Regions from separate parts of the Homo sapiens genome. Here regions 2, 3 and 4 are each reported to be linked to region 1. Evidence: microRNA targets listed by miRTarBase, many of them from high-throughput screens and not tested one by one. Region 1 holds a microRNA gene; each other region holds the end of a gene's coding sequence.
The links. Region 1 holds the annotated microRNA hsa-miR-3171 (AGAUGUAUGGAAUCUGUAUAUAUC, at 1,148-1,171, opposite strand). A microRNA usually pairs through its seed, bases 2 to 8, with sites in the 3' UTR of a target mRNA and lowers its output. Matches are read on the target gene's strand: a 7mer-m8 pairs with bases 2 to 8, a 7mer-A1 pairs with bases 2 to 7 and ends in A, and an 8mer does both.

Region 1 (3,218 bases):
TTTAGGATGGAGAGCCATAGAAAGAGGACCGTTTTATCAACTGTTGTGAAAAATCTCCTGGAGGCAGGCACAACTATGGAATGCTAGAAAAGCAAGAGAATCTTTCTAAACTTTGCTTTACTTAGTCTTTTAAATGTGATCTAAGGCTCTGTGGAAAGAATCTCATGGACAGGTTGACCCTTGCTCCCCATCTTCTCTGGTTAGCAAAATGTGTTGTTTCTATTCTTGTGTTTTCCTCATGTGAAATAATAACATCAATAAAACTAGACAGACTCTTAACATGCATAACTGTACATGGTGTATTCAGATTACAAGACCTTTTAATTATAAATTTTCTATTGAAACACTCTAAACAGGAGTGCGGGTGATAGGTGATGTATACATATATATAAATGCCGTCCTTCCAGTTACTTGGAATTTAGGTTCCTTCGCAAGCAAAGTGTTCCTCCCTGTCTATTTAAAACTGACAAAGACATTTGTCTTTACTCGTGTGGAGATGCCTGATAACTTATTTCTAACTATCATACGCTCCACAGTCATGACATTTTAAGAAAATAGATCAAATCTATCCTGGATTTTTTTTCAAGTTCCTTTTGATTGCTGCTGGGAGGAGAATAGAGAGATAGTAGAGAATAGCATTAACTTGCAAAGTAAAATAAATTATTTTGAGATAACTATTCTATATTAGAATACAAAATAGCCTCCTAGTTACAATAACAAATTCAGCAGGGCATGGTTGTAATTCTCCAGGCTTACTAGTTTTGCTACCATGGTGTGTTTTCTCTGGTATACTCCAGATGATTTAAATAGTGAGACTGATACAGAAACCTCTGCAATGCATGTATTAAATGCATACATATATGAATTATAAGACAGCTTTTTCACTGGTTACCGACTGGACACTAAGGACAGAGTTTTTGAATTTGAATCTGAACATTACTATTTGCTCACTCTGTAACCATGAACATGATAATTCATCCGTCTGTGCCTCACTTTTCTCAGTTGAAAATATTAATAAAATATATATAGAGAGAATATAGAGTATATATATAGAGAGAGATATTCCATACATATTTTATATGTATTTACATATATATACACACATACATATATAGATTTATGGAATCTATATATACACATATATATAGATATATACAGATTCCATACATCTCTATATATATGCATAAATATTTACACACATATATCCATTTATCTATCTATAAAACAAGAATTAGTATATGTAAAATCCTTTGATGAGTGTCTAGTACAGATTAAGAATTAAGAATCAAATGAATGTTACCTGATATCATATGGGTATATACATATATATAAATATTTGTATATACATTTATGTATATATACACACATATATAATATAACTGTATATAATAAAACTTTGAATTTGGCAAAGTGAGGTAGAAGCCCCAAGTTAAATTTCATTAAGATTAAAACTGTAGCATATCCTTCTATTTAACTTCACACTTCAGCTTCTTTAAAATTTTTATTTCCAAGAAAGTGTACAAATATCTGCATATCATAAGCAAATAAAATATTTACATAAAAGATGGCTATAGCCACAGTGAGTAAATGCTTCAGGCTCCATATGCCTTAGAACTAAAGTGACTGTATAACTTATCATCCAGACCACGACAGTTTAAGAATAAAATGTGTGTGCTTTTAATAATCACTCCAGGATACCAAGTGTGAATTGAGATTTTTCCAGGAAAACCAGGAAGATTTGTCACCCTACTCAAAACCCTAGAAAATACAGTAAATAAGAACATATTTTACATGTCCCAAGGACAAACGCATGAGGAAAGTGGCGTCATCTTTTCTTTGTGGTGAAATAGTATCATCTATGCTCTCCGCAAAGCCCAGGTTGAATTTGTAACTCAGGTAGAATTGTTGATTTTGTATTTTAGGGTTTTTTTATTATACATAATGCGCTGCACCTCATAGTTAAAAACAATTGTTCTAAGCTTCCACATGCTGCTAAGATACAGCTACCGGGATTTAGTGCGAATCACGTTGTTCGAGGCGTTAGTTCAGCTGTCTGTTGAATCCCCTGAAACTAATGCTCAGTCTATATTAATGTCTCAGTCCCGAGAAACCTCAGCCTATTCTCTCCTATAATTAATCTTGCAGGTGGTGCCTTGACATTATTGGTTCACCAACAGAGCAGAACTGCCTCAGCCATCAATAATAATTCAACGCATCAGGATGAGGCCTACGCATGGGCCACAGAGGTAGCCAAATATGCAGAATCTCCTGCATTCCTCTCCAGTAGAAGGGAAACTGCAATTGAAACTAGTTGTTTTGGTGGCTCGATAATTTGTAATAGAGGGGTCTTGGTGTTACTAATTGTTTTGCTTTATGCTTTTATCCAAATGTAGCCACGGCTTGGCACAAGGGGAGTGATTGTCTGTTTACTGAATCTTAATATTGAGGCTGTTACAAATTGTCTTTCACAGATGGTGGGAGCTTTTCAGATCGAGAGAGGCAGGGAATTTATTACTCAATATTTCTGTATTACTGATTGGGACGTGAGGAGCATAGACAATCTGTCCTACTGCAGGGTTTGCTGCATGGTTTTTTTTTTCCGTCTGTAAAATTATGGCTGGCTCTAGACATTTTTCTCATTTTGTATAGATAGCAGCTGTGTAATTTCCAGCAGAATGTTTGCGTTGATCCCCCTTCCTTTAATTGAAATCCGCAATTATGAGATTTGTTTCTTTTATGTTTGTGAGTTTATTGGTTTAATCTACAAAATGTGCTGTCTTGCTGTCTTACACAGTTAAAGGCTACAGCACAGTTGGGACTTAAATGAAAAACATTAGAGGGAGGGGCTTTCTGTTTTTTGTTTTTTATTTTTTATTTTTTTGGTTGGCTATAGAAAGAATCCAATATTCTTCCCCTCAGATAGCAGGCTCTATGACAACTTAGTAAACTGTCATTCTGTATAATTTAAAGCTGTGTCTCTTGTATATATATATATAATGTATGTATTATATATATATGATTAGGCTCATTTCTAAAAATGAATAATATGTGCGTGTGTGTGTGTGTGTGTGTGTGTTCATAGAATGGAAAGGGAATATGCCTGCATAGGAGCATTTCTTTGATTATAGTAACTAGTAACATTTACATAATGCTAGCTTTATCAGCACATTTTAGGGGAAAGAGAGTGAAAGGATTATAAAGTAGATAGATATAAGAAC
Region 2 (3,218 bases), not on the chromosome of region 1:
GATTCTTTCTTGTCCCCCCAACCCCCCAAAAAATGTTGTTGCTCAGGAAACTTAAATAGGCACTATTTTAGGGGAAAGAAAGTTGGCAATGATCTTTTGTTGCAGAGACATATTAAAAGAGTGACAAAACAAAATGCCTGCTATTTTGGCATTTGCCATTTGGTACATATACAATGTGACAATATATGAAATTCCCTCAGGAAGCAACAGCTCTCAGATAGTTGCATCCCTAAAATGATTAAATTTCATCCATTTATTTTTGTGGCATCAAAACTACGCCATATTTAAAGAGTCTCTTACTTTTTCTCCTTTCGATGAAGGACTCTTCTGAGGAAGATAAGGAAAAAGAAGAGGTTGCTGCTGTCAAAATCCAAGCTGCCTTCCGGGGACACATAGCCAGAGAGGAGGCAAAGAAAATGAAAACAAATAGTCTTCAAAATGAGGAAAAAGAGGAAAACAAGTGAGGACACTGGTTTTACCTCCAGGAAACATGAAAAATAATCCAAATCCATCAACCTTCTTATTAATGTCATTTCTTCCTGAGGAAGGAAGATTTGATGTTGTGAAATAACATTCGTTACTGTTGTGAAAATCTGTCATGAGCATTTGTTTAATAAGCATACCATTGAAACATGCCACTTGAAGATTTCTCTGAGATCATGAGTTTGTTTACACTTGTCTCAAGCCTATCTATAGAGACCCTTGGATTTAGAATTATAGAACTAAAGTATCTGAGATTACAGAGATCTCAGAGGTTATGTGTTCTAACTATTATCAAATGAATAAATCCTCTCTATCACATCCCCCAAAAATGTTCTTTAGCTCCTGTTTCACTCCTAGTGGTAAAGAATTTCACTGCTTTTTAAGGATAGTCTATTTAATTTTGGAATTTTTAGAAAGATAAGCTGGGACAAAAATCTGCCTCCTTCAGCCTGGCCAACATGGTGAAACCCCATGTCTACTAAAAGTACAAAAATTGGCCAGGCGTGGTGCGCACACCTGTAATCCCAGCTACTCGGGAGGCTGAGGCAGGAGAATCGCTTGAACCTGGGAAGTGGAGGCTGCAGTAAGCCGAGATCGCACCACTGCACTCCAGCCTGGGCGACAGAGCAAGACTCTGTCTCAAAAACAAAACAAAACAAAAAAAAGCCTCTGCCTCCTTGTAAGTTTAACCCACTGGTTTTCATTTATCATACATGTATTCAATCATTTATTGAAAATGTATTGAGTACTATTCATGTGCTGGGAATTAGTAGTGAATACTTGTTCTTACACTCATACAACTTACAATGCTTTATTGTTTTGCTCTCCAGAACCACACAGAACAAGACTAATAACATCATATTGTAAAAAGCAAAAGCTATCATATCATGCTGCCTTCTTCAGTTAAAACTTCCCAAGTTTTTAAATATACAATGGTAATGCCTGTTTAACAAACTCAGAGGCTTTATCTCTTTTATGTTTTCAATGATTCATTCAAATCCCTAGTGCCTTAGTTTTAGAAAGTTCCGTCTCTCCTTTTTGAGGCCTCTCCACCCTTGATTGTCCAAGAAACTGAGGGTTCATGTCTTAGACCAAAGGGTGCAGTTCTCTTCCCAATACAAAAGGTAGAAAGTGGAGTCTTACCATTTAGTTAATGCTGTTGCCTTCTACCATAATGTTGTAGCATAGTCCAGCAGACTGAGGTGATTCTCTGGCTGGTTCCAATTCCTGCCTGCACCATAGTGGATGGCCCATGATTTAGTTCCAGGATTACATCTCTCTTGGTTTATAGTCACAAAGCCAGTGTTCCCCCAAAGCTTAAAAACAAGCCAGGATGGCTCAGTCCTGAGGAGATTCTAAAACCAGGTCTATGTTGTCACAACAAATACTCTCCTACAAACACTTTGATCCTTGTCCTAGGCTTAGACATGCTCTTTCTGCAAAGCAGTTTTATTTCAGGTGCCTCACTGCCCTTCCCTGGCACTGAGCCTTTATCAGGCTCTGCAACAGAGGTTCCCCCAAGTGATCGCCACTCAAACACAGTTGATTCACACCAACCCTTTCAAGGTTGTGGCTTTCATTCTCTAATGTCCACTCATACAGGCAGCCTTTCTCCTTCCAAAATCTTGCTGCCACTGTAGAGAGTTTCATGCTAGCTAAACACAAGTCTCTAATATCCCCCTTCCTCTCCTCCTTAACCCCTCTCCTCCAGGCTTACAGAGGAAAAGAAATCAGTTCTCCTCCAGGATTCCAGCTGTTCGTCCCTCCCATTCCACTGAAAGCACCAGCTTCTAACACCTTCCCCTCTCAGACAGAGCCATCCTGCTTAGCGGATTGTCAAGGGGGGACCCAGAATTTATGCAAAGACTTAGATTCCCTGACCTGGAGAGATCAGAAGAGGAAAAAAGGGATTTTTTCCCTAGTGAGTATATAGCAGGAAAAAAAAAAAAGATGAGTTAGCTTTTTCAGTAATTCTCCTGTTATACACATAAAGTGACTAGCACTATGCATTCCATACACACACACACACACACACAGATCTCATGGTAGTGATATTGGTAGTGAAGGAGGAAAAGGAAAAGGTGAGCAATGGATGTGATATTATGAGAACAACACATATGAATGACACTTTATTAGAACTTATCTGGTTTTCCTCTTATCTCTCTGGCTGTTCCTTCTCAATTCCCTTCACTGGTAACTCTTCAACTCCCCAACCACTAAATGCTAAGTGCCCTTAGGCTCAGTCTTTCGACCCCATTTCTACACTCACTTGATTTCCTGCAGTTTCATAGCTTTAAAATCCAATCTTCTTAATGATCACTCCCAGACCTTTCTCTCCTCTGCCTGCGAACTTCTATATTCAACTGCCTACATAACATCCCCATTTGGATGTCTATAGGCATCTCAAAAGTAACATATAAAAAATGAATCCTGATATTGCCCCCAAATCTGAAACTTCCCCCACACCCAAGTTTTTCCATTCAAAAATGGCTGCTCCATTCTTCCATTTGCTCAGGCCAAAAACCTTGGATTCATCTTTAATGCGTCACTTTCTTTCACACCCCATATACAATCTATCAGCAAAACCTGTGGGCTGTACCTATAAAATAATACTCAGAATCTGCCTACTTCTAACCACTTCCATTGTTACCGCCTTGGTCCTAGTTCCCATGATAGCCTTGTGAATTATTGCAATAACCTATATTGGCCAGTGATTATCTCACTACTACTGCACA
Region 3 (3,000 bases), not on the chromosome of region 1:
ATTATATTGGAACAGTATGTTCTGGAGAGCCTGGAAGGAGAGGGCAGGATGAAGCATTTTAGGACAGGACTCCAGAGACGGTGGTGGCGGAAGCCTGGGGAGCTAGGGGGATTTAGTGGGCCTGGAGAGGCCAAACCACTGCTCCTGCTGCTAGGCCTAGGGTTTAGCAGGGTCTCTCAGAGAGTCTGATGGCCTTACAAGGTTGAGCCAGCATCCTGTCCTTAACCCACATTCCCTCAGGCTGGAGGGTGGGGGAGTGGGTGGCAGAAGGCCATTCATTGCTCATGGAATTAAGAGGTCCTCAAAGCCAGTGATGCCACCCTGGTATAGCAAGGACCAGGCTGCCTGGGGGGCAGGTGGTGGCAGCTGCCGTAGAGTGACAGGCATGTGTTTTCTTCTCAGAAACAGACTGAATTTGATCTGATTAATGTGAAGGACTGGCCAGTCTGGGAAACCGCCTGCCACGTGGAAGAGCCAAACCCGACTCTCTGCTGCCACATGCCGTTCCCATGCCCGGCTGCTGGGCACCTGGGAGAGCTTCCAGAATCCTCGCAGACAGCCCAGAGCCTGCCGCTACCCTCGGCCTGCCCACCACCAAGCAAGCAGCAAGCAAGATGGGGTTCTCATCAGTTCTTCCTCCCACAATGTAGGACCTTTCCTTTACCTTCCAATGGATAAAATAGTTCAGAGTTCATAGTCATATTCATAGACACAGAATCAAGCTTTTAACATATACATCCACCTCTATATGTTAAATAAAACATCAGATTATCAACACTGTCATTACGTAGAAACTTTGGTTAGCCAAGCAGTGCATTGTCAGTTACGTCATCTCTAAAAATGACCTGTGTCTGTTCTCTGGGGATTGCTGGGTCACAGGTGCCCCTCACCTTCCACAGTCAGGCAGGGAAGTTATAGGCACAAAGCTACGTCTGGAACCCCTTTGTGCCCCCTTTGTGTTCCTCAAGGAAGCAGTACCTTTGAAGAGATCTCTGCTGCATTAAGTGATGACCGGCTACGTTTCATGTCAGGCTTGCTTTGCCTTGTGGGCTACTCAGTGCAGAACCTGCTGTAACCCTCAGTTCAAAAAATGGACTGGCAATGTGATTAGCGTTGGATGCTTTACCATTCTCTTTAGTTGTTACCGTAATTCTGCTTTTTCATGGGAGTTTGAATCATGGACCATAACTTTTCAGTTATCAGATCAACTAAAGAAACATTTGTTGTTAAGCCTAATGTGCTGACCTATGTGCCTGCATTTTTTTTTTAATCTAGACATGTTTGGAGTGAGAGAAAGATGGAAAAAAGACATGGGGTAGGGACGTAAGTGGAAATCTATAGCCACAGCCTGAAGCTTTGACCACTGCGGTTTTCAGAGCCCTTTCTCCACACTCATTTCAGAGCCTCCTATGGTTTGGGAAGGAATAACACACTGGCCCATTAGTAAGGGTGAAGGCTGGAGGGATTTGTTGACTTCTTGGAATTATCAGAGGTAGGGTGGTCTTTAGCACAAAGACTTGCATGCAGAGATCCCTGGCAGAACACCCAGAGTGCCCGTGGCTCCCACCCCAGGGTCTGGCCGGTGTGCTGGATGCATGCCCAAGGGTGCTGGGCATCACTGGTCCTTGTGAGGATGCTTTTAAAGTTTTATATTTATGTCCCCAAACTTGGAAACAAGAACTCTACTTTAGCCTAACCCTCATGTCCTTTTTTGAATTGAGAAAATTACAGGAAATGGTGCCTTTGAAAATTAGAAAACTTGCTTACAGAGCTGTTCTAAATGGTAAATCCTCAATTTCCCCAAGACCGGTTGCTCTGAGAGTAGCTGGTAAAGAGGGGCGAACTAAAGACCTGTCCACCTGTAGCTCCGCTCATTTCTTAGAAACCACCTGCTTCCCAGAGTGCCAAGCCACAAGTACCAGGCTTCGTGGGCACAGACACCTCCTGGGCTGGGCAGAGTGACAGTGCTAGAAGACCCCAGAGAGAGGGCAAGGGCTTTGGGCAAGAAGCACTGGTGGTGTTTTAGGGACCGTCCTTCTCCCCTACCCAGGGAACTGGACCTGGCAGGGCACCGTGCTCATGTGGCTCCAAGGACAAGCATGGCGGTGGCCCCTTCTGCCTTCCAGGAGAGGTCTTGCTTTTGAAACCAAAATCATGTTCTTCTAAAGTGTCATCTTCTGCCCTCCCTGTCCCAATAGGGACCACATCTTATTTGTCTCAAACAGGGACTTGTGAGTACTTGGCAAGTTTTGCAGCCTATTTTTGTATTCTTAATTTGGGGAGTAAAGATGTTTGGTCTCAAAAACCTTTGAGGAATTGCCAAGAATGGCGAGTGATTGCTTTCCTTCAGAGAACAGACACTTGGAATTTCTCCTTTTAGTGTTTATATACGTGCAGATTAATTTATATATATATATATACACACACACATATACAGTATAAATACTCATTTGATTCTCGTAAAACGCGCATCTGGCGTGTGCAGTTGAGAAACTTGGTGGCACATGGGTGTTGGGGGAGTAGCCTGTGTTGGAGGGACACCAGTGCACTAGGCAGCTGGGGCGGCCCAGGCTGAAGCCATCTCCGGGTGTCTGAGAAACCACCCAGTGCCTCACCTCCAGATCCTGCTGGCATCACCTCCAGAGCCCTGCATGCACTGGCTGAAGAGTTGGTCTGTGGAGAGGATTTTCTTGGTTACTTGTATTCACGGTTAATTTACAACCCAAACAGCAAAACACAGTTGGTGGACAAGTTCATGCAGGACCTACAGTGACCCAGCCATGGGCACTAGCTCATCTTTCAGGTGGAAAAGTACAGTGCTGCCTGCCCTGGTATGTTTTTCTTATAGATGTTAGCCCTGCCCAACAGCCAGGGCTACACTACAAAAGGCAAGAATGCCCATGTAAGGAGCCCAGCAGTCTGGACAGATCCTTCTTCCTCTGCTGTTGGATGAGAGTGAGTGAGTATGCTCTGGACCTTATCCTTGAAAGATGATCAAAA
Region 4 (3,218 bases), not on the chromosome of region 1:
CTCTATGTCGAACCCTTGCCAGTAAGTGGTTGGGTGGGGCTTGGGACCAGCCACCTCCTTCCAGGGGAGGCTGGAGGCGTGACACGTCTTCCCTGTGTGTCAGCTCATCTTCCAGATCACACCGCTGAACGTGACCCAGTGGCTGATGGTGCTGAAAATCTCCTTGCCCGTGATTCTCATGGATGAGACGCTCAAGTTTGTGGCCCGCAACTACCTGGAACCTGGTAAAGAGTGTGTGCAGCCTGCCACCAAATCCTGCTCGTTCTCGGCATGCACCGATGGGATTTCCTGGCCGTTTGTGCTGCTCATAATGCCCCTGGTGATCTGGGTCTATAGCACAGACACTAACTTTAGCGATATGTTCTGGTCTTGACTGACAGTTTTCCATAAAGAAGATGTTTAACTTAATCAATTAATTTTTTTATTGTTTAAAGCAACTGTCTATTTCTGCTGAATTTTCACATGAACATACTGGCTGGTGATGGAGGTTTCATACTCTAGATTTTGTTTTGCTTTTTCTGACTCCAGTGGGGCAAGATTTTCCTTTTTTATACACATAATTAAAGTGTCCATTGACATGTACAGAGAACTAACACTATTTTATGCAAATATTTTTTTGTAGATGAAAAAGCATGTACAGTGTTCTGTTTAATACTCATCCTTGTATAAAAAAAATAGTTGAGCCAGCAGACATTGTCAGCAAATTAATTGGCAGCAGATTTTAGGAAATGAATGTGTGTGGTTTTTTTTCTAAAACTAAATAGCATGTATTGTGTCTTTTGCATGATGATCCGGATTTAATTTGATATCACAGTCTAATTTTTATTCATAAGCCAATTTTTCTGCACTGAGCAGAGTCTTGCTACCTCAGTCAGTATTGTTTTGGTTTGCTACTTCCCTCACCCACTTTGGCCTCCGTTCACCCCACCCCACCCCACCTCTCCCCACCTTACCCCCGCCCCGCTTGGCTTCTTCTTTAGGATTGTGATGGTTCGTTCTGTTTACATCAGTTTTAACGAGAGGTATGCCTGTACTCGCTTGTGCAGAAAACATTGTTCCAGATTCAATCGACTGGGTTTATGTCCCTTCACATAGTTTTTAAGGTTATTTATTTAAATGTCTAATGTATTTTATTGTAACAGACATTGTTTTGCCAACATTGCCTATTTCAGTGGCACGTCATCTAGTTTTAAAAAAATAAAACATTTTAAATGGACAGAGAAAAATAACTGTCTTGTCTTTAACTCGTAAGTGGCTTACCTGGGACTAACAGACATGTCCAACTTTCTCTCCAGTTCTTAGCTCAGAACTTTAGTTGTACTCTGCTTGAGGGGAAGAAGGCTCCTGCTCTGCTGTGTAGGTAGTCATAGGAATTGTATTCTTAATGTACAGGCACTAATTGTCATCTGTGATGTACATTTTATGCAAGTTTCTGCTGGCCTGGTATAGAGAACATAAGGGCAAGTGTGTATGTGTGTGTATGTGTGTGTTTTGTAAAATCTGTAAATAGCACATGACCAAATGAACATATTGTATAGAACTATTTTTATTTGAATGTGGCACTAACCACCACCACCGTTACTACGATCAATGTTTGCGCATGTTCGAGATGAGTCTCACCAACAGTGTGTAAGTCATTAACAGTCCTAACTGTGGTGTTTTCCTCCAATGCCTTCCAACATCCATCAACTAACGTGAGTATTTTCTTCCTGGGATTTGGATGCTTTAGCCTAAAGGTGACTGCCACCAAGTGAGATAACTGTATGTCACTAACTTATAAGCCGCCTCCATGGCAGATGCTGCTGTGCTCCCTGATGCCCTGTGAGCACCGGGGTTGCCTGTGGCGCCTGCCATGTGACTCGGGCGCAGCATCAGCTGGCTGGAGGTGTGGCTTTCATAGACCTCCACAGGCTGCCTAGGACAAGATGACCAGGAGGGCCCAAGCCAGACAAAAGCCGGAGTGGGGAGAGAGGCATTTCAGCCAGACCAACAGGCTGAAGGAGCTGTGCAGACTATTGCTAAAATGAGGGTTCGCAGCTGCCAGGAGTCATCCCAGAACATTGCTACTTATTTATTAAAAAGCTAAAAACTAGTGAAAGCAAGTAACTGAACCAGTGAACTCTGGGTATCGATAGGTTCGTCTTAAATAGGCCACTTCCCCACTCCCCCACCCCCCCTTGCTTGGTCTTGTCCTTGGTGGCTAAGACTTAGCTCTGCAGGGGATGTTAAAGCACAGTTAGTAGGACGTGGCTCTGCACAGCCCAAAAACCAGCTTACTCCTTAGCCAGGGTGTGAGGCCTCGACTATATTCTTCAAAATGTACTTAGGCTCTGGTTACTGGGATGGCCAGTAGATGTAATGCAGATGGTTGGAGTTTGGGGAGGGTTAGGAGGCATCAAGCAGGACAAGGTGCTGCTGAGTTCAGAGGGCCCACGTTCAAGGGATGGAGGTGGAACCTGGAGACCGACTCTTAAAAGCACAGTCCGTGGTTGGGTGTGGTGGCTCATGCCTGTAAGTAAGTCTCAGCCCTTTGGAGGCCACAGCAGAAGGATTGCTTGAGCCCAGGTACTCAAACCAGCCTGGGCAACAGAGTGAGGCCCTGTCAAAAAAAAATCAGCCTTACTGTGAAGCCTCCAAGGCTGCTCGCAGGCAGCTGTGGCTCTCGGGAAGGGAGGCTGCTTTGCCCAGCAGGGAACATTTGGGGCAGGGGGTAAATTTTGCCAGTTTGAGCATCATGAGGTGTAACAAGAAATGGGTTGAATGGGCCAAATGCAAGGAGTGCATCTCTGGGCTGCAAACTGACTTGAGTGCTGCACTATTGCTATTCCGTGCAAACAAAACTCAGCTTTTCCTGACTCAGTTCCTTGACTTAGTGGCCTTTACAAAAAAAGTTGAGTAGTGTGTGGCCTGCTGTCGCACAGCCCCTAGTTAGCTTCATGGTTTCTCAGCTTCAGACCCCTCCAGCCCACAGAGGAGCCCATGGAGGGACCCACTTCCCTTGGTCCAGACAGCTGGGAGTGGGTTAGGCCCACTGCTGTTTTGAGCAGGGCCACTTGCTCCATTTCACTGAAGGCTTTGCTGGGTGAAAACACTTCAGCATCTCCTCCTCAGGTCAACCCATAAAGACCAGGTCCAGCACCGTGGTCTTGGCACATCCCTGGCCTCAGGCCCTCACCTAACAGTGAGGCAGCAGCTGCCCAGCCCCGCAATGTGCCTGC

Region 2: miRTarBase lists SPA17 as a target of hsa-miR-3171. The part of its 3' UTR that is shown has no 7-base or 8-base seed match.
Region 3: the mRNA of ZHX3 is a reported target of hsa-miR-3171. Seed matches in the 3' UTR shown: 7mer-m8 at 733-739.
Region 4: miRTarBase lists ATP2A2 as a target of hsa-miR-3171. Seed matches in the 3' UTR shown: 7mer-A1 at 1,003-1,009.

Annotation. Positions count from the first base shown.
Region 1 is chr14:27,632,099-27,635,316 of GRCh38, forward strand. It overlaps MIR3171 (microRNA 3171), which reads right to left and starts at 1,180; the gene lies at 1,107-1,180. The region is part of intron 2 of MIR3171HG (MIR3171 host gene); the gene reads right to left. It overlaps LINC00645 (long intergenic non-protein coding RNA 645), which reads left to right. Exons shown (of 5, transcript NR_039992.2): 4 at 2,146-2,246.
Region 2 is chr11:124,693,983-124,697,200 of GRCh38, forward strand. It overlaps SPA17 (sperm autoantigenic protein 17), which reads left to right. Exons shown (of 5, transcript NM_017425.4): 5 at 321-3,218. The coding sequence ends at 464. Among named protein-coding and RNA genes, the nearest start is that of SPA17, 22 kb to the left of the region's middle.
Region 3 is chr20:41,182,604-41,185,603 of GRCh38, reverse strand. ZHX3 (zinc fingers and homeoboxes 3) reads left to right here. Exons shown (of 4, transcript NM_001384317.1): 4 at 403-3,000. The coding sequence ends at 413. Among named protein-coding and RNA genes, the nearest start is that of MIR6871, 15 kb to the right of the region's middle.
Region 4 is chr12:110,346,098-110,349,315 of GRCh38, forward strand. It overlaps ATP2A2 (ATPase sarcoplasmic/endoplasmic reticulum Ca2+ transporting 2), which reads left to right. Exons shown (of 20, transcript NM_170665.4): 19 at 1-21; 20 at 104-3,218. The coding sequence ends at 373. Among named protein-coding and RNA genes, the nearest start is that of ANAPC7, 56 kb to the right of the region's middle. RefSeq lists an enhancer at 3,096-3,218.